4 linked regions of the Homo sapiens genome follow. The protein of the gene in region 3 purifies or fractionates together with the protein of the main gene of each other region. This does not show direct contact. Each region holds a gene or a part of one and is shown on either strand. Other genes may lie near its edges.

Region 1 (4,399 bases), on a different chromosome or scaffold from region 3:
GTATTTGAGGGTACAAACCCATGGCTGGGCTCGGCTTTTAAAAAGTCTTATCTGAGATTCTTCATGGAACAGAGTTCTATCAAAGCCAATTTAAAAAGTCTAAGTGAAAAATAATTATTCTTGCTGCACTTTATGCAAATAATCGGGCCAAGTACAGTAAGACTAAAGTTTATTTTGTAAACAAATCAGTTGTATCATGATTTGTTTTTAATAAAAATGGGGACTGGAGAGAGAAAAATTATGCTTCAAAAGAAAAACTATAGTACACTGTTGTTAGCTGTTCTTGAGGTTTTTTCTGCAGTTTAGACTAAATTCTAAAGTCTTTGTGGGTTAGAAGTCCCCAAACTAGTGCTTCCAAATCTTTGCTTTTAAAATTGGGAATTGTACTCCTCATCCTAGGACTCGTTATTTACCTTATAGTGGGCTGTTTCACTTAAACACTGTAGTAAAACTACAGAGTACTAATGTTTGTGCCATGCAAGCCATGAACGCCTAGCCAGGCCTGCATGAGTACACTCAGACAGTTGCAAACCAGTTCCACTCTTCTCACCTTCGGGTTCACTCCCATTCCCATAATGTGCCCTGTCAGCAGGAAGAAGCCAGAGCAATTGATAGCCTTTTCCCATCTTCACAGCCTACACCTTAAGATTAAGGTGTTATAAAACCCAAAGGGAAGGACTGAAACCACGTTTGCAAAATTATGACTGAGACGGTGAAAGAGATCTAACTTAACTGACTCCATCTTGCTTCTAACCTCCAAGCTGTCCTTGTTCATTCCTGGGCGGAGGCTAAACTAACTTTGGGAGAAACTTAGTTTAGAGTTTAAACAAAGACAGTGACACTCCTTTTCCCAAAGAAGACCTCCATCTTGCCTGGAGACTAGATTGCCTTTGTAGGACTAACATTAGCCACAAGATTGGAAATTATGGTTTAGAAGTCATGCAGCTGGAGGCTACAAGATTCTGACCCTCCCTATACTGTTCCTAAGATCAGTGTTGAGACACCTTGCACTTGATGGATCAGCTGGCACCACCCAGATCAATAAACTGGCTCATCTGATCTTGTGGCCCCCACCCAGGAACTGACTCAGTGCAAGAAGACAGCTCTGAGTCCCTATGATTTCTTTTTTTTTTTTTTTCTTGAGACAAAGTCTCGCTCTGTCGCCCAGGCTGGAGTGCAATGGTGCAATCACGGCTCACTGCAAGCTCTGCCTCCCGGGTTCACACTATTCTCCTGCCTCAGCCTCCCAAGTAGCTAGGACTACAGGTGCCCGCCACCATGCCCGGCTGATTTTTTGTATTTTTAGTAAAGACGGGGTTTCACCATGTTGGCCAGGATGGTCTCGATCTCCTGACCTCATGATCCCCCCACCTCGGCCTCCCAAAGTGCTGGGATTACAGGCGTGAGCCACCTTGCCCGGCCCTGAGTCCCTATGGTTTCATCTCTGACCAATCAGCACTCCTGGCTCACTGGCTTCCCCCGACCTACCACATTATCCTTAAAAACTCTGCTCCCCGAATGCTGGGGAAGACTGATTTGAGTAATAATAAAACTCCAGTCTCCCCCTCTGCCCCCCAACCACACACAAAAAAGAATGCCATGTGAAGACAGAAAGCTGGAGTGATGCATCTATGAGCCAAGAAATGCCAAAGAATGCTGGCCAACCACCAGAAGCTAGGAAGAGGCAAGGAGGGACTCCCCTACAGGTTTCAGAGGGAGCATGACACCTTGCTTTTAGACTTCTAGCCTCCAGAACTGTGAGACAATAAATTTCTGTTGTTCTAAGTCACCTGGTTTGTGGCATTTTGTTACAGCAGCCCAGGAAACTAATAGAGAGATCTGACCAAGGGCAAGGGCAAGGGCTATGTTGCATTAGCTGGGCAGCTACTATTCCCTCTCCCCCACCCTAAGGTATGGAAAAATGCCCAGAGGACGTGAGGGCTTGCCATCACTATATGGTATGCAGGCAGAAGCAAAGGAAGTGTGGGAGGGCACCTTCCCAACGGAAGGTAAAACTGCCATTCAGGCAAATTAGAACACATTCAAACCACAGAGGATAATTCATCTTCTCCTCATTCAGACCTAGAGCTCAGAGTGATAAGTTCCATTTCATTATCATTACTAATTTTTATTTATTTCTTTTTGAGACAGAGTCTTGCTCTGTCGCCTAGGCTGGAGTGCAGTGGCGCAATCTCAGCTCACTGCAACCTCTGTCTCCCAGGTTAGATTCTCCTGCCTCAGCCTCCTGAGTAGCTGGAACTACAGGTATGTGCCACCACGCACAGCTAATTTTTGTAATTTTAGTAGAGATGGGGTTTCACTGTGTTGGCCAGGCTGGTCTTGAATTCCTGACCTCAGGTGATCCATCTGCCTCGGCCTTCCAAAGTGTTGGGATTAAAGGTATGAGCCACTGCTCCCGGCCATTACTAAATATTTTTAAAGTAACTTTTCCCCCAATTGAAAAAATAATTTTCCTATTATGGAAAATTTGGAAAACTCAGAAAAGTAAACACAAAACAAAATGACCTATAATCTCAACCCAAAATTACTATGAACATTTAGTGGAATACCTTTTCAGTCTTGTTCCTATGCGGCTATGTACTTTTGTGTTTTAGTAGGACAGGCAATACTGGGGCCAGCTTCAATTTCTTTGTTAATTATACTTTAGCTGGCAAACTTGAGAACATAATTCTCATTTGCCAAATTGTTTCTCAATTATGAAAGATAATCTGAATTCTTTTTTTTTTCTTTATTTATTTATTTTTCAAATGAGACAGGGTCTTGCTCTGCTGCCCAGGCTGGTCTTGAACTCCCAGGCTCAAGTGATCCTCCTGCCTCGGCCTCCTAAAATGCTGGGATTACAGGTGTGAGCCAATGTGCCCGGCCACATTCTGAGTTTTGAACCACTCTTTCATCAACAAGCTTTTGGACTGGACTCTGCCACGTGACAGTCAGTAGGAACTGACTCCGTGCTTTACACCACGCGCAGTCCCAGTGCTTCATCACTCACCGGAGTTTTGATGTAGGTGTGGGGATCAGGGAACTCAGGAAAATGGCTGGGGATGTGCGGCGGGTGGGGTCGGTTCTGCCCTGCAGTGAGGGCCTTGGGGGTCACTGGCTGATTGGTCACCGGAGCTGCAACAGAGTCACAACTGATTACCCCTCCACCCAAGACCCTGATTTCTACAGATTATGGTCTCTCCCCAAAGCCTCCTTTTCTCAAAAAAATGCCAGACCTCAATTTTCTAAACAAGTTGCATTTTGTATTTCAATCGATAAAAGGTCTTTGATGGCTTACAATGCCCAGCCCTGCTGGCTAATCTTGGTTGACGTTCCCTTTGACAACAATCTGCCCACAAGCCTCTTAGGTAGAGGTGGGTGGCTGTGGCCACAGTAACTACGTAAAACAGCATGCTGAGGAGCTACGCAGGTTACATGGGCTGCTGGTTCTCTTTTCAGAGACCTTGGATAACAAAAAGGAACAATGAGCTGGGGACATTAAGTGTGAGCTTAATCATAACAAGAGGGGATTGAAAATGGCACCTTCCACTGCTATGTTGAGAGGGAGTTTTTAAAAAAATGCCAACAAGAAAAAAGTGACTTTAAAGAAGAAATCCAGGCCGGGTGCGGTGGCTCACGCCTGTAATCCCAGCACTCTGAGAGGCCGAGGCAGGCGGATCACTCGAGGTCAGGAGTTCGAGACCAGCTTGGCCAACATGGTAAAACCCTGTCTCTACTAAAAATATAAAAGTTAGCTGGGTGTGGTGGCGAGCGCCTGTAATCCCAGCTACTTGGGAGGCTGAAGCAGGAGAATAGCTTGAACCTCGGAGGCAGAGGTTGCAGTAGTCAGCCGAGATTGTGCCACTGCACTCCAGCCTGGGCAACAGAGCGAGACTCCATCTCAAAAAAAGAAAGAAAAGAAAAAAATCCAGTTAACTCTCTCCAGGTCCTACAAGCCCAAACTGGTTACTCTCTACTCAGCTTATGGCACCCAGGTTTACTTAAAGTAGAGGTCATCAAAGTTTGTGTAAAGGGCCATATAATAAATACTTTAGGTTTTGCATGTGGTACAGTCTCTACCACAACTAAACTATGCCATTATAGCATGAAAACAACCACAGATAATAAGTAAATATGGCTGCATTCCGATAAGACTTTATTTACAAAAACAGGAGGCAGGCTGCATTTGGCCCATAGGCCACAATTTACCAACCCTTAATCTAAGAAGAACAAAAACTTTCATTTTTCCAAGCAGCATCATTTGCCCTTCTGGGGCTAGAACACAAGAAACACAGCAATATCTCAAAGATGGTTTACCTTTTGGTGACTGAATTTCACATGCTAATCAGACTAGCCCAAATAAAGATTATATTGTAGGTAGCCCCAAACATTGGAAGAG
Region 2 (4,399 bases), on a different chromosome or scaffold from region 3:
GACGATGAGTCGGCCTCCTTCACTGTCACCGTCACAGGTGTGGGCCCAGCCCAGCTCCCCGGGGTCACAGAGACAGCCCTGAGCCCTGGAGGAGCTGGCCACATAGCCCCAGCTAGCACCCCGGGGAGGAGGGAGGTGTGGGCTGCAGGTGCATGTGCCAGGGTTCTTGCTGAGATGAGCCCAGGGCCCCTATTCAAGGAAACAAGCCCCTCCCCGGTGCCCAAGGCCAGGCCTAGCTCTGCTCCACAGCTCATTTACTGAGCACTTTCCCTGAATCAGGCACTGGGAGTAGCAGGTGAGTAATGCAAATACGGTCCCTATTCTGAATGAGCTGCCAGGCTAGGTGAGGAGGCAGCTGTTAACCAGGGGTCGCAAACGGGTAGTCCTGGGGCCCTGCGCATTCCACACATGTGCTTTGTTTGGTCTGCAGAGTCTTACCAAAGTCAGGACAGTTCAAATAACAATCCGGAGTTATGCGTCCTCTTGAAAAAGCCGAAGACCCGGCGGCTCTGGTCCCGCTTCCCCCCATGGCGACGAACAGCTGGCACTGAGTAGCAGCTGCCCCCATAGTTTGGGGCCCACATTCCTCTGTCCCACCTCCCTGCCATTGCTTTTTGCCTCTCCCCAGACTGCTTCAGCCGCTAACCTAACCTGGCCCCTGTGGGCATTTGAGTTTGCGACCCCTGTGTTAAACCAATAAACATGCAAATAAATGTACAGTGACACCTGGTGATAAGTACTGTGAGGGCCAAGGGCAGAGGGCTCAAGAGCACAGAGCAGGAGGGTCAGGGAGGCCTGGGAGAAAGTCACCCTTCCACACACGGGAGCCAGCAGCACGCAGACACGGCCGCTTCCCTCTAGGACTGCACAGCCTGGCAGGAAAGCCAGACGCATTCCAGGATCTTAGAGCATGGGTTGTTGAGGGCCAGTCTAGGGACCCTGGGGCTGGGAGCCACCACCCTGGCCAGGCAACAGGAAGTGCTTTCAAAGCTGATACTGGAGCTAAGTGGGGTGGGGTGTGGGGGAATATTCAAAGCGGGAGAAGCACAGGACAACTGTGGAAGTGACGGAGGTTCAGTGCCGGAGACCTCGGGGTGACGGCTCACAGCGCCCAGCCCAGTGTGTGTCTGGGGCTGGGGGTCCATAGGGCTAGGCAGCTCTGGGGGGCACAGAACCCCAGTGGCTGCACTGGAGCCCCCATCCTACTGCGGCCACAGTCCTGTCCTCTCCCAGCCCTGCCCTGAAAGTCACGCCCCATGCAGAGCTGTTTAGGGCCCCCCTGCTCCTTGCACCCCAGCTAATGCACTCTACACACACAAGCCCACAATGCCTAAGAGGCCTTCTGCACATATTCTGCCCTGTCGTAATCATCTTCACCCTCTCCCACCCAGCCATGGCCAGACAGAATGGCCACAGCCACACAAACTCCAGCCCATGCTCAGGCTCCCCACAAACACCAGTCTCTTCACAGGGAAGTTCACACAAACACCACCTCTGCTCTAGGCCAGAGCGAATCAAGTCTGACACCAAGCTGAGGTCCCGGGGCTGGGCAGCCACCCGGTCCCATCACTGCACCCTGTCCTCACCCCACTGCCCTCATCACCTTCCCCACTCCTCAGGCAGCTGCATTCTGGTCTCTCCTGGCCTTGCTCGGCCCCAGAGGACCAGCCTGCATCCCCCAGACCCTTAGAGCAAGCAAGCCCATGGGGGAGGTGGGTTGTGTGGCTCAAGGCAGGAGTCTCCGTGGAGGCTGGGGGGCTGAGTGGGAGCTTGTGGTTACCTCGGCCCATGCATGCCCCTATAAACCACCCCCAGCCCCCACCCCCCCAACCCTGGCCCCTGATTGGGAAGCTAGCAGTTCCTCAGCCCAGCCACCAGGGGGCCAGAGGCTAATGGAGCAGTAGTCGCCCCAAAACTTGAAGATTCTGGGGGGACCTGGGGGCAGCAGGGGTGTGGGCAGGCCTGGGCTCCATGCGCTGGTCACCTCTAATATTGACATGGTTCCCTTTCTGCAGAGGAGTGACCAGAACTTGGAGATGAGCTCCCAGAATCAGCATTTAGCACCCCTGGGGAACTCTCAGACAGACGTTGAATGCAAAAAGCATTACTGAGTTCCTGCAAGCCTTGGCTTGGAATTCCTGCCACTACCTGTGGGGTCTGAGCCTCCCTTTAACAGAGGGTATTTCCTCCTCCTGCCCCAGAGTGGGTGTAGCCAGCTGTGACCTTAAGGAAGTTGTATAATCACTCTGTGCCCAGTCCCTTATATGGAAAATGGGGACAAAACACTACCTTCCTCTTAGGATTGCCGTGAGAGTTAAATGTTTCAAGTGCTTGGGACTGTTCCTGGACCTTAGGAAGTGTCATATCAATGTTTGCTATTGTAGATCCACCATCCCTTATCCATGGTTCCAAAATTCCAAAACTCTCAAAATCAAAAGGCTTTTTGTAAGTTTTGTATTCCAAGTCATTTCAGGAAAACCTGAGCTTGATTGCTCTGAAGCTATTTCTATGCTTTAATTATCCTGCTGAGGGTGAATATAGCTATAGCTGTATATCTATAAGATATGAGTGTCTTATAGATATATGCTTGTATCTGTAAGATTCTGTATCTTTCAATCTATCCTGCTTAGGGTGAATGTAGTATGTGTTATACCACAGACATGTTAACGTGACCGATGAAGGGGGAGGCTCCCGTGGGGGCTGAGGAAGGTATGTGATAGATGAGAAACGCATCATTTCTGGAATCCAAAGCATTCTGGATTCTGTAACACCCTCTGGCCCCAGGGATTTCAGAGAACAAACTGTGGACCTATTATTGCTTATTATTATTTTACTTATTATTCTCATTATTATGTGGGTGATAGGGACTTCATGCTGCCGAATGGCTCCAGAGAGGCTGACGGTGAGCTTGTGACAGGCTGTGGTTGTCCCCACCCTGCAGAACCCCCAGTGCGGATCATATACCCTCGCGATGAGGTGACCTTGATCGCCGTGACCTTGGAGTGTGTGGTGCTGATGTGTGAACTGTCTCGGGAGGATGCCCCTGTGCGCTGGTACAAGGATGGGCTGGAAGTGGAGGAGAGCGAGGCCCTGGTGCTGGAGAGGGATGGGCCACGCTGCCGCCTGGTGCTACCTGCTGCTCAGCCCGAGGACGGGGGCGAGTTTGTATGTGATGCTGGAGATGACTCGGCCTTCTTCACTGTCACTGTCACAGGTGGGCAGTCTCTGCAGCACAGAGAGGAGGTAGAGAGGTAGGGGGCTAAGGGACAGACACCCACCTAGCCCCACCTCCCCCACCCCATCCCCAGCCTTCCCCTTATCCAGCTTCCTCATGTTTGGCCATCAGAATCCTGCTTAGCCACATCAGGTCAGGACCAGAGGCCTGGTGGGAGGGTGCCCAGCAATTAGAACCATTCGTTCATTCATCCATTCGTTCAATACTCATTGAGCAACTACTATGTGCTTGGCACTGTTTTAGATGCTGGGGATACAGCAGTGAACCAATAAGACTAAACCTCTTGTCTTCACAGAGTTTAAACTCTGGTGAGGGTGGACAGACAAAAAATAAAAGAGATGGTTTGTCAGGTGGTAACAAGTGCATCAGAGGCAAGGCAGGGAAAGGGGATAGGAAGTGGGGATGGGTGTGGAGTGGGGTGTGTAGATCTGGGTGTGAGTCTAGATCTGCCTCTTTCTGTCTGTGTGACCTTAGGCAAGTCAGTTTCTTCTAAAGAGGCCTCAGGTCCTCAGCCATGAAGTGCAGCCAGCAGCTGTGCACCTCTTGAGGGTGGTCAGAGTAACTGATTGAAAAAACACAGGGTTCTTAGGACAGTGCCTGGCACACAGCAGCTGCTCCATGGACTGCAGCTGGCACTGTTCTCAAGAGCTGTGCTGCCAGTGGGGAGGGCTGAGGATCTGGCGGGTGAGGCAGGAGAGGCCTGCTGGCCAAGCCTATGTGCCCCTCTCCATGCCCACCCACCAGCCCCACCAGAGAGGATTGTGCACCCGGCAGCCCGCTCCCTGGATCTGCATTTTGGGGCTCCAGGGCGCGTGGAGCTGCGCTGTGAGGTGGCCCCAGCTGGGTCTCAGGTGCGCTGGTACAAGGACGGGCTGGAAGTGGAGGCATCAGATGCCCTGCAGCTGGGTGCCGAGGGGCCCACCCGCACCCTGACCCTGCCCCACGCCCAGCCTGAGGACGCCGGGGAGTATGTGTGTGAGACCCGGCATGAGGCCATCACCTTCAATGTCATCCTGGCTGGTGGGTGCTCCTGGCCAACCCAGGGCAGGGAGGCAAGGGCAAGCATGGGATGACACCTTCCTCTCTTCTCCAGAGCCTCCAGTGCAGTTCCTTGCTCTAGAGACAACTCCAAGCCCGCTCTGTGTGGCCCCTGGGGAGCCAGTG
Region 3 (5,299 bases):
GTGTATATTAGTATATGCTACCTACATCATGGGATTCCTCTAGGAACCAAATGAAATTAGGTATGTGAGAATACTCTGGGAAATGTGAAATCTCACTGCTGCTTCTCAATTCCTCATTATGCATTAGATTCACCTACAGAGTTCAAAAAAACAAACAAATAACAAAACAAAACAAAGTGACTAGACTTGCATCTACCAAGGATTTCTTATCCATTGGATCAACTTAGGTAGAGAACAAACAAATGAGGAGTGGCAAGCAGGAGAGTGGTGAGACAGGAAGTTTAGAAAAAAAGGCAGGGACCAGATCATGAAGAGATCTTACGGTAAAAACAACAGTGAGAAGTTTGGACTCCAAGCTGGGAGGGAGGTAGAGCTATTGGAGATCAGAGTCAGGGAACTGACATGACGAGACTGCATTTTACAAAAGTCATCTGGAAGAAGTGTCCCAGCTGAACCGCAACCTTCCCCTATATGGCAGTCAGGTTGTTACAGAACTAGTTCGTAAAGAGAATAAAGAGACCACATGGATCCTAGGTCAAAAGATCAAATGCCAACATTTAGTATGAGAATAAGATATATTTGAAATGGGGAAGAGAAAAGGAATAGTGCTTGTTACTTATTCCTGTCCTCCAATTGCGATCGATAGAGGAGAAAAGTATGGAGAAAGGCAGTGAGATGCTTGGAGGGCCATGTTCTCTTTCTCTTTCTCACTCCAGTCAAATGGAGGGGCTCAGAGAGTAGAAAAGTCAACATCCTGTGAAATGCAGTGAGAGCCAAGAGTAGAAAACACTCATATCCTGCTTCCCATCTAGGGTTATTGAAGGCAGGGAGGATTACCAACATCCCTCTCCCCACCTCCCTATACGCAAGGGCATGCAAAGGCAGCAAAAGTCCCTGCATAGCACTTCTAGGCAGAAGAGGACCAGAACCAACCCTGTAATTGCCCACAGCCCATGAATGGTATAGGAGAAGGGACTTAATATTCCAGTGGGCATCATGTGTGGCCCAGAATTTACTGGGAGGAGAGGGCTGATAAGTCTGTCACAATGTCATCTGGCCATAGCAAGGAGATGTATCCTAATGACTGCTCATGGGCTGCCCACTGGGGACTGAAGGAAGACACAGCTAAAACTGAAATGAGCATACTGGGGAGCTCCTGAAGGGTTCAGGTCAGCATATTTCCAGAGCTCATAGAACAAAGACGGATCAAGTACATCAGAGATGGACACATGTAAAGGACTTCATAAGCTAGGAATGCATTCAGCTATAAGTAAAAGAAACTTGTCTCACAGTGCTGTGAAAAATGGAGGTTTCTAATTTTCTTGCCTAAAGGCAGGCAGCTGAGGGCCTTGGTTCAGTAGCCTGGCAAGTTCAAGACCATGTCTCTGGGGTTATCTTGACTTTCCCTCCTTCTGGTCCCTTACTGGTTGCTACAGGGCTGCTACAGCTTCAGACATTAGGTCTACTTTCAAGACAGGAAGAAAAGGGAAAGTGGGTTGGCACTGGCATCCCTTATTTTAGGGAAAAATGAAACATTCCTGCAACCACTAGCGGATTTCCACTTGTTTATTGGCCAGAACCCTGTCACAGCCCCACTCCTCACCTTGGTGCAAGGAGTCTGGAAAAACAAATACCCTGCCTGCTCTTGGGCATGTTGCTGCCCCCAAGCAAAACTAGAGCTATGTCTGCAAAGATGGAGGAAGGAATGGATACTGGCCAGACAAATGCAGTGACAATTACAAAGTCCTAGAAGTCAGAGGTGTCCAGTCTTTTGGCTTCTCTGGGCCACATTGGAAGAAGAATTGCCTTGGGCCACACATAAAATTCACTAACACTAACAATAGCTGATAAGCTAAAAAAAAAATCACAAAAAAATCTCATAGCCTTTTTAAGAAAGTTTATGAATTTGTGTTGGGCCACATTCAAAGCCATCCTGGGCCGCATGTGGCCCACGGGCACTGGGTTGGACAAGCTTGTTCCAGGTCAAGATCTGAAAATAAATGTTGTTACCCCAGGGGGTTACCAGATAAAATGTAGGATGCCCAGGTACATTTTAACATCAGATAAACAATGAATGATTTTTTTATTAGCAGTATTCCCCAAATATTGCACAGAACATACTTATTCTAAAAAAAAATTTCTTGTTTTTGAAACTCAGACTGAACTGTATGGTCTGTATTTCTATTTGCTAAATCTAGTAACTCTACTCCCCTGAAGCCCCGAGTAGTGCGCTGCTGTTTCCGTGTAGGAAAATAGGGTGAGGGGAAGAAGTTTTAGAATCTTGAACAACCTGAGAAACTGCCGAATTGGACTGACTTTACCTGAGAGTGACAAGATTGGATTTTTACACTAGGGAGGATCAAGGCTCAGGGCCAGGAATTAAAATTAAGTTATAAAAAAATAAAGACTTTCAATTTAGCATTCTCGAGTCTGTGAGTCAGAAATTCACACCTGATCCAAGAGAAGGGAGGGGAGGAGGGTAAAACCGGGAGCAGGAAGAACAGATGGGAGACTGGTGGTTGTGGAAAGGAGAGGTGCTGGGGGTGGAACCAGGGTAAAGCTGGAAGGATAGAGAGAAGTAGGTGATTTCAAAACATTTTAAGGAGACAAAAATATGGGTTACTTGGTGATTCAAAGGATATCAAGGGTGAAGGAAAGGGAGGAGCAAGGATAACAACCAGGTTTTGGGATTGGGTAATGGGTAATTAGTAATTTGCTGAAGAGGGGAACACGAAAGGATGAACAGGTTTGGGGAAAGATAATGAGTTAAGGTTCAGATAACTGGAGTTTCAGGAGCCTGAGGGGACCTCCACGTGTTACCCTAGAAGGCAGTTTGGGGGGTGACATAGGAGGCCTGAGAGGACAAGGGGTTGTAATCTTGCTCACACAAGCAATGCCACCTTTGTATGTGTATGCACTGGCGGCCAGCCGATCTTCCTAGGAGTGAAGAAAACATTTGGGGGCCAAAATGAAGAAAATTATAAATAGATAAAAATTAAAATTGACCATAAATGATACAAATAAATGCTAGATAGGGCAGTTAGAAGGCTGTCTCAGTTCTAATCACAACAGGGTCAGAAATCCAGAAAAATCACTCTGGGCCTCATTTTCCCCACCTGGAAGATGAAGGTGCTTTTGCTGGATTTGGTCCACCCAGCATCTAGCTCCACGTCCACAGGAGGCACATTCTAAAAGTATTTCAGAAATAACCAATCCCACGTTGTGTGTAGTCTTGGTGGCATGGAAATTCAGGGACTCCCTAGCCAAGGAGTGGGTTATTGACCCAAATTAGGCCAACTGGTCTCTCTCCCAAAATTCTGAAACCAGAGGCAAGCAACATAAAGGTGTAGGAGGTTGCTGGTGCTCAATCAATCTGGAAGAATCTTGACAAGATTCTCTCGTAGTTCCTGCTAACTACGTCCATTTGAGAGGGCTGGGTCTGGTCTTTTTCTTCTGATCTGGGTTCTCCTCTAAATTCCACCATAACCTTTCAATAAAATCATTTCCACTTGATTTAGTCAGAATCCATTTCTGCTGTCTGTGACCAAAGAACACTAAGTGATTCAGAAGGGGTTGGACAATCATTTCCACAATGCCTTTCAGCTTCAAACATCTGTGATATATAACTGATATCAATTTTTAAAATTTCTAGTACATTTTTAAAAAAGATCATTCTTTACAGATGATGTTACAAATAGAAATGTATTTAAATATGCATATAGAACTATGCTGGTATCATCTCTATTTTTTACACACATGCGCACATACCTATGCATACAAATATGCTACTGTTTAAGCCTCATTGCTAATATTTGAGAGCAAGAAAAGACAATTATAGTGGTTTAATAAATAGGTTCCTATCTAAACCTTCATAGTTATTGCAAATTATTTCTTTTAACCAGAAAATCTTCTTTTATTAAAATAAATCGGCTATCTAAAAAAAAGGAATGTCAATCTCTACCATTAGATTTGAATTTCTCAGGTTTTAAATTTCATAACAGAGAACCATAGCCCAAGTTCACTTGCTGTATGAAAGAGAATTGTTTTAAACACAAATAGAAATATAAACAAAACTCAGATTTATTCGCTTAATCATTATTTCATTTGGCCATAAACTTTTTAGGCTTTGGTTTCATTTACACATTAAAAAACTTTTATGAATATTAGTCTAAATTAACAGATGCTGTTTTTAAGCATCAGAAAAAGAAAAATCTTCTTGAACTGATGCCATGATACTGGATGAAAATAGAGAATGCTGGTAAAATTTATGGAGAGATTTAATATTAGGAAATATGAGGAGAGTTCATCTGACAGGAAAAAAACGTGCCATTCACAGAAGCAAAAGTTGTCACATTCGTGGACATGCTGAATGTATCCTGAGGAAGATCTTTGCCACTGCAGATACTTGGGGCTGCAACGAGATAAGGGATGCAGCTTGAGAATGCATTTGAGAATGAAATTAAGTAGTCAAGCATTTCATATGGGTTTTATTGCCATTTAAGGGCATTATTCATTCAATGGAGATGTTGTTAATTGTTTTGAATTCACATCAACATCTCCCTAAAAAAATGCAGAGATTTAAAAAATCTAGAGACTGACAGAAAGCAGAGCTGAACAATATGGCATAACTCCACAGCAGGTGAATATATAGAGATGCTGGGAAATGGAGAATTTACTGCTAAACAGCCATGGAGATATTATAGTGTTTTAAAATTCTGCCTTAAACTATTTTGAATAGCTACTATTTATAGAACACCCACAATGTGTCAGGCACTGTGTAGACATCATTTCTAACTGGCACAATAACTGTATAAAGAACTACTTCAATTTTTACAAATTAAAAAACCTGTCTTCAGTGAGGTTGTGAATTGCCCAAAGCCATACAAGTTATTAATAGTAAATGGCAGAGTTGGAATTCACACCCAGCTCCCTCTGGTTGCAAATTCTGAATTCTTCCCATTTCCCTACATTGCCTCCTATTATATCATGTATTGTTGCTTTTTCTTCTTCTCCTCCTCCACACAATGTTTTATTTATTGCATTGATTAGGAATTTGATGTTATTTGACAATTATGATGCAATCTTTCAATTGGTAAGCCATTCTCTTTATCCATGGCAATCCATGTTTAGGTTGGGTTGGAGACAGAGATCAGTATCATTTTGTGACTCCCCCAGAAAATCCTTCTCTTTAAAAGGAGAGAGCAGACAGCCAGCAGCATCCAGGAAGAGCAAATTAAATGGATATGGTTCCCACTCAAGGGTGTAAACTCTAACGGGAAAAACACTGACAAAGACAAAC
Region 4 (4,399 bases), on a different chromosome or scaffold from region 3:
TACAATTTGATATCTTTCCTAAAATCCTATAATTCTGGAAGGGTTTCTGCCAAAAAATTTTTTTGACCAACCTCTTGCAGAGAAAGTACTAGAATCAGGTCTTACAGATACAAAGGCAACAATGAATTAAAAAACAGTTTAGTGAGACAAGTCAAATTGAATGGTAAAGTGTTTTAAGTATTTGTAAATTATGCTAAGCCTCCGGCACCTCCTAATCTGTATCTGGAATATAGAAGGCCAAGTCATTGACCTCTTTTAGTCTACACTTAGATAACAGCTTTAGAGACTACAGGAAGGCCTAGAAATAATCATTAATTTATTATGTGCTTGCAGCATTATGCTGAAGACATAATACTGAACAAGATACAAAATACTGCCCTTAAGCAGCTTTGTTTAATCGACGAGAAAGACAAGTGTATATGCACTATGACAGGTGAAGAGCTATGGAAGCACTCAGGTGGAGACCCAACCTAGACTTCAGTGATGAAGGAAAGTATTTTAGAAAAAGTAATATCTAATATCTGCTTCCAGTTGCTTGCTCTCTAAATTAGCCTACACACTACTACTAGACTAAGCTTTTAAAAACTGGTATGCCTATCATGGTACACTGTTACAAAACCTTTGATGTTTCCTAATACTTCTAGGATAAAGTCTCAAATTCTCTAACCTCTCCCTATGCTATCCTCCTCTCCTCTTTATTTAGTTACATTGTCCTTACTTCAAGGCTCAGACCGGATCTCAGCTCCTCAGAGCAGCATTTCTTCCATAGCCCTAGCCCTGACAACCTGAATTCCTGTAGCACCTATTACACATATATTTGCCACATATTTGCCTCTTAGCACATACAATTAAAAAATTTTGAGGGTTCACTCTGTGCCAGCCTTGTGTGAGACAGTGGAGACAAATACAGCATAGTCCTTGATTTCACAATTTGATTGGGAGACAGTGTTTAGATCTTCCACATCATATATTCTAGAGTCCCAACAAGATCTACTGAGTACCCTGTGTGAGGTAGTTCCATTATCAGGTACTAGGGAAATGGAGATAAAAGATGCAGTGTATGCTCTAAAGAGGAGTAAAGGAGATAAACTAGCAACCAAAAAAATCACAGTAGATTATAAGTAGCGTCACAAAAGAATTAGCACAGGGGGCAATGGATGCTTTGAGGAGAGATAAAAAGTTAGGAGGGCAATGCGAAAAGGCCTGGAAGTGGCTCCAAAATTGGAATCATTAACAGACTGATTGATGAATTAGCAGGGTGAAGATGTGAAAGCTTCTAAATTTCAAAGGAGAAGAGACCATGTCTTATGCCTCTGTGTAATCCCTACATCTCAGAGTACAAAGAATATGTTTGTTGATGCTTAGGAAGAATGACCCTAAGCCTTCTAGGTCCACCCCAATCAAGACTTAAAGAGTATGCAACAAGAATGACTAACACCACTCTGAAATGTTGTTTAAAATTTATTTTAAGGGTTGGGCATGGTGGCTTACGCCTTAATCCCAACATGTTGGGATGCCAAGGCAGAAGGACTGCTTGAGCCTAGGAGTTTGAGACCAGCCTGGGCACAAAGCAAGACCCTGTCTCTATCAAACAAACAAACAAACAAACAAACAAACAAAATTAGTTGGGCATGGTGGTGTGCGCCTGTAGTCCCAGCTACTTGGGAGGCTGAGGTGGGAGGATTCCTTGAGCCCAAGAGTTCAGGGTTGCAGTGAGCTATGATCATGCCACTGCATTCCATCCTTGGTGACCGGGCAAGACCCTGTCTCAAACATACATACATACACACACACACATTTAAAGAAAACAAACAAAAAAATCCAAAGAAATAAAAACCTCTTTTAAATGTACACATACAGCCATAATACAAGTTCCTTTTAAAATCAATTATGAGAAATACTAACCATTAACATGGTTAGGTTTAGTTGTTTTATTAGCAGTATTTTGAAGAGGCAAGCTTATCCTCACCTAAGGTAATGTCCTGTTTAGGAGGTTCATCAGAGCCTCACTATAATCTGAAAGCAGTATACCCCAAGTAAGTGCAAGATGTTATAGATTTAATCTGCAAATATTTAGTGACTAGTATGCCACAGTAGCTAGCATTTATGGGCCACCAACATATTCTAATCGTTTTTCATTTTTATTTACTAAAAAAATTTTTTTTGTAGAGATGGGGTCTCACCATGTTGCCTGGGCTGGTCTCAAACTGCCAGGCTCAAGTGATGCTCCCAACTTAGCTTCCCAAAGTGCTGAGATTACAGGCATAAGCCACCACACCGGGTCTCATTTTTTCTTAAAGAAAGAGCTAGTAGGGCCAGGTGCGGTGGCTCACACCTGTAATCCCAGCACTTTGGGAGGCTGAGGCGGGTGGACCACCTGAGGTCGGGAGATTGAGACCATCCTGGCTAACACAGTGAAACCCCATGTCTACTAAAAATACAAAAAATTAGCCGGGTATGTTGGCACATGCCTGTAATCCCAGCTACTTGGGAGGCTGAGGCAGGAGAATTGCTTGAACCCAGGAGGCAGAGGTTGCAGTGACCAGATCTCCCCACTGCACTCCAGCCTGGGCAACAAGAGCCTGGGCAAAAAAAAAAAAAAAAAAAAAAAAAAAAAAAAAAAAAGAGCTAGTACTTTATTAGTGCTTGATTGTTTTCAAAGAATTTGTATATAAAGTAAGTCCTCACTTAACGTCATTGGTAGGTTCTTGGAAACTGACTTTAAGTGGAACTATTCAGAGCAGCTCCTCCAACAACGTTGTTTCGATGTCCTTTCATTACAACGTAGATGAGAAAAAAATTGGTTTCATTATACACTTCACTTAAAATCGTAGTTTCCAGGAACCTATTGATGACCAGGAACCTATTGATGACGTTGAGGACTTACTGTATATCTCATCTGATCTTTATAAAAATCTTATTATTTCTCACTTAATAAATGATGAAATAGAGATGAAGATAAGTTATAGTGATTTGTCTAAGGTCACACAGTTGGGATGGGTGTCCATGTCTAGCTGTTTTCCCCTCCATCTGGGTTATGCTGCCCTTTAGGGCCACCTTTGTGAAAAGGGACCTCTTATTAAATTACTCCCAGGGCAGAATGGGAGAAAAAGCTACGAAAAGACTGAATATTTCTTTTTTTTCTTTTCATTTTTTTTTTTGAGACGGAGTTTCGCTCTTGTTGCCCAGGCTGGAGTGCAATGGCATGATCTCGGCTCACCACAACCTCCACCTCCCAGGTTCAAGTAATTCTCCTACCTCAGCCTCCCGAGTAGCTGGGATTACAGGCATGCACCATCATGCCCAGGTAATTTTTTGTACTTTTAGTAGAGATGGGGTTTTTCCATGTTGGTCAGGCTGGTCCTGAACTTCTGACCTCAGGTGATCCACCTGCCTTGGCCTCCCAAAGTGCTGGGATTACAGGTGTGAGCCACCACGCCTGGCCAAGACTGAATATTTTTTGGATTCTATAATGATATTTTAAAAATCTGCTTCAAAAGCTTTTTTTTTGAGATGGAGTCTCACTTTGTTGCCCAGGCTGGAGTGCAGTGGTGCAATCTCGGCTCACTGTGACCTCTGCCTCCCCGGTTTAAGCGATTCTCCTGCCTCAGCCTCCTGAGTAGCTGGGACTACAGACACACGCTACCATGCCCAGCTAATTTTTGTGTTTTTAGTAGAGATGGGGTTTCATCATGTTGGCCAGGCTGGTCTTGAACTCCTGACCTCAGGTGATCCACCCACCTCGGCCCCTCAAAGTGCTGGGATTACAGGTGTGAACCACCGTGCCCAGCCTGGCCAACATGGTGAAACCCCGTCTCTACCAAAAATACAAAAATTAGACGGGTGTGGTGGTACACACCTGTAGTCCCAGCTACTCGGGAGGCTGAGGCAGGAGAATCACTTGAACCCGGGAGGCGGAGGTTGCAGTGAGACAAGATCGAGCCATTGTACTCCAGCCTGGATGAGAAAAGTGAAACTCTGTACCACCCCTGACCTCCCCCACAAAAAAAAAAAGAAAAAAAAAAAGGAGAAATCTTGTTCAAAATAAGTTTTCAATAGCTTTTATTTATATTTATTTATTTATTGAGATGGAGTCTCACTCTGTTGCCCAGGCTGGAGCACAATGGCGTGATCTCAGCTCACTGCAATCTCCACCTCCCAGGTTCAAGTGATTCTCCTGCCTCAGCCTCCCGAGTAGCTGGGATTACAGGCGCCCGCCACCACGCCCAGCTAATTTTTGTATTTTTAGTAGAGATGGGGTTTCACCATGTTGGCCAGGCTGATCTCAAACTCCTGACCTCGTGATCTGCCTGCTTCGGCCTCCCAGTGTGCTGGGATTACAGGCGTGAGCCACCGCGTCCGGCCTTCAATAGCTTTTAATTAAATATGTGAAGTTTTG

The links. The genes of interacting proteins can lie anywhere in the genome.
Region 1: the proteins of TTC29 (region 3) and TAF8 purify together in Homo sapiens (affinity purification with mass spectrometry; 2 studies listed by BioGRID and IntAct, with this or other methods). This does not show direct contact.
Region 2: the proteins of TTC29 (region 3) and OBSL1 purify together in Homo sapiens (affinity purification with mass spectrometry; 3 studies listed by BioGRID and IntAct, with this or other methods). This does not show direct contact.
Region 4: the proteins of TTC29 (region 3) and IKBIP purify together in Homo sapiens (affinity purification with mass spectrometry; 2 studies listed by BioGRID and IntAct, with this or other methods). This does not show direct contact.

What each region holds. Positions count from the first base shown.
Region 1 is NC_000006.12:42,056,125-42,060,523, reverse strand, and holds part of TAF8 (transcription initiation factor TFIID subunit 8), read right to left. Parts: intron 3,136-4,399; coding exon 3,011-3,135; intron 1-3,010. UniProt on the Homo sapiens protein: The TFIID basal transcription factor complex plays a major role in the initiation of RNA polymerase II (Pol II)-dependent transcription.
Region 2 is NC_000002.12:219,558,040-219,562,438, reverse strand, and holds part of OBSL1 (obscurin-like protein 1 isoform 1 precursor), read left to right. Parts: coding exon 1-37; intron 38-430; coding exon of another isoform or gene 431-555; exon of another isoform or gene 556-717; intron 718-2,941; coding exon 2,942-3,214; intron 3,215-3,979; coding exon 3,980-4,255; intron 4,256-4,328; coding exon 4,329-4,399. UniProt on the Homo sapiens protein: Core component of the 3M complex, a complex required to regulate microtubule dynamics and genome integrity. It is unclear how the 3M complex regulates microtubules, it could act by controlling the level of a microtubule stabilizer.
Region 3 is NC_000004.12:146,910,252-146,915,550, forward strand, and holds part of TTC29 (tetratricopeptide repeat protein 29), read right to left. Parts: intron 1-5,299. UniProt on the Homo sapiens protein: Axonemal protein which is implicated in axonemal and/or peri-axonemal structure assembly and regulates flagellum assembly and beating and therefore sperm motility.
Region 4 is NC_000012.12:98,627,789-98,632,187, forward strand, and holds part of IKBIP (inhibitor of nuclear factor kappa-B kinase-interacting protein), read right to left. Parts: intron 1-4,399. UniProt on the Homo sapiens protein: Target of p53/TP53 with pro-apoptotic function.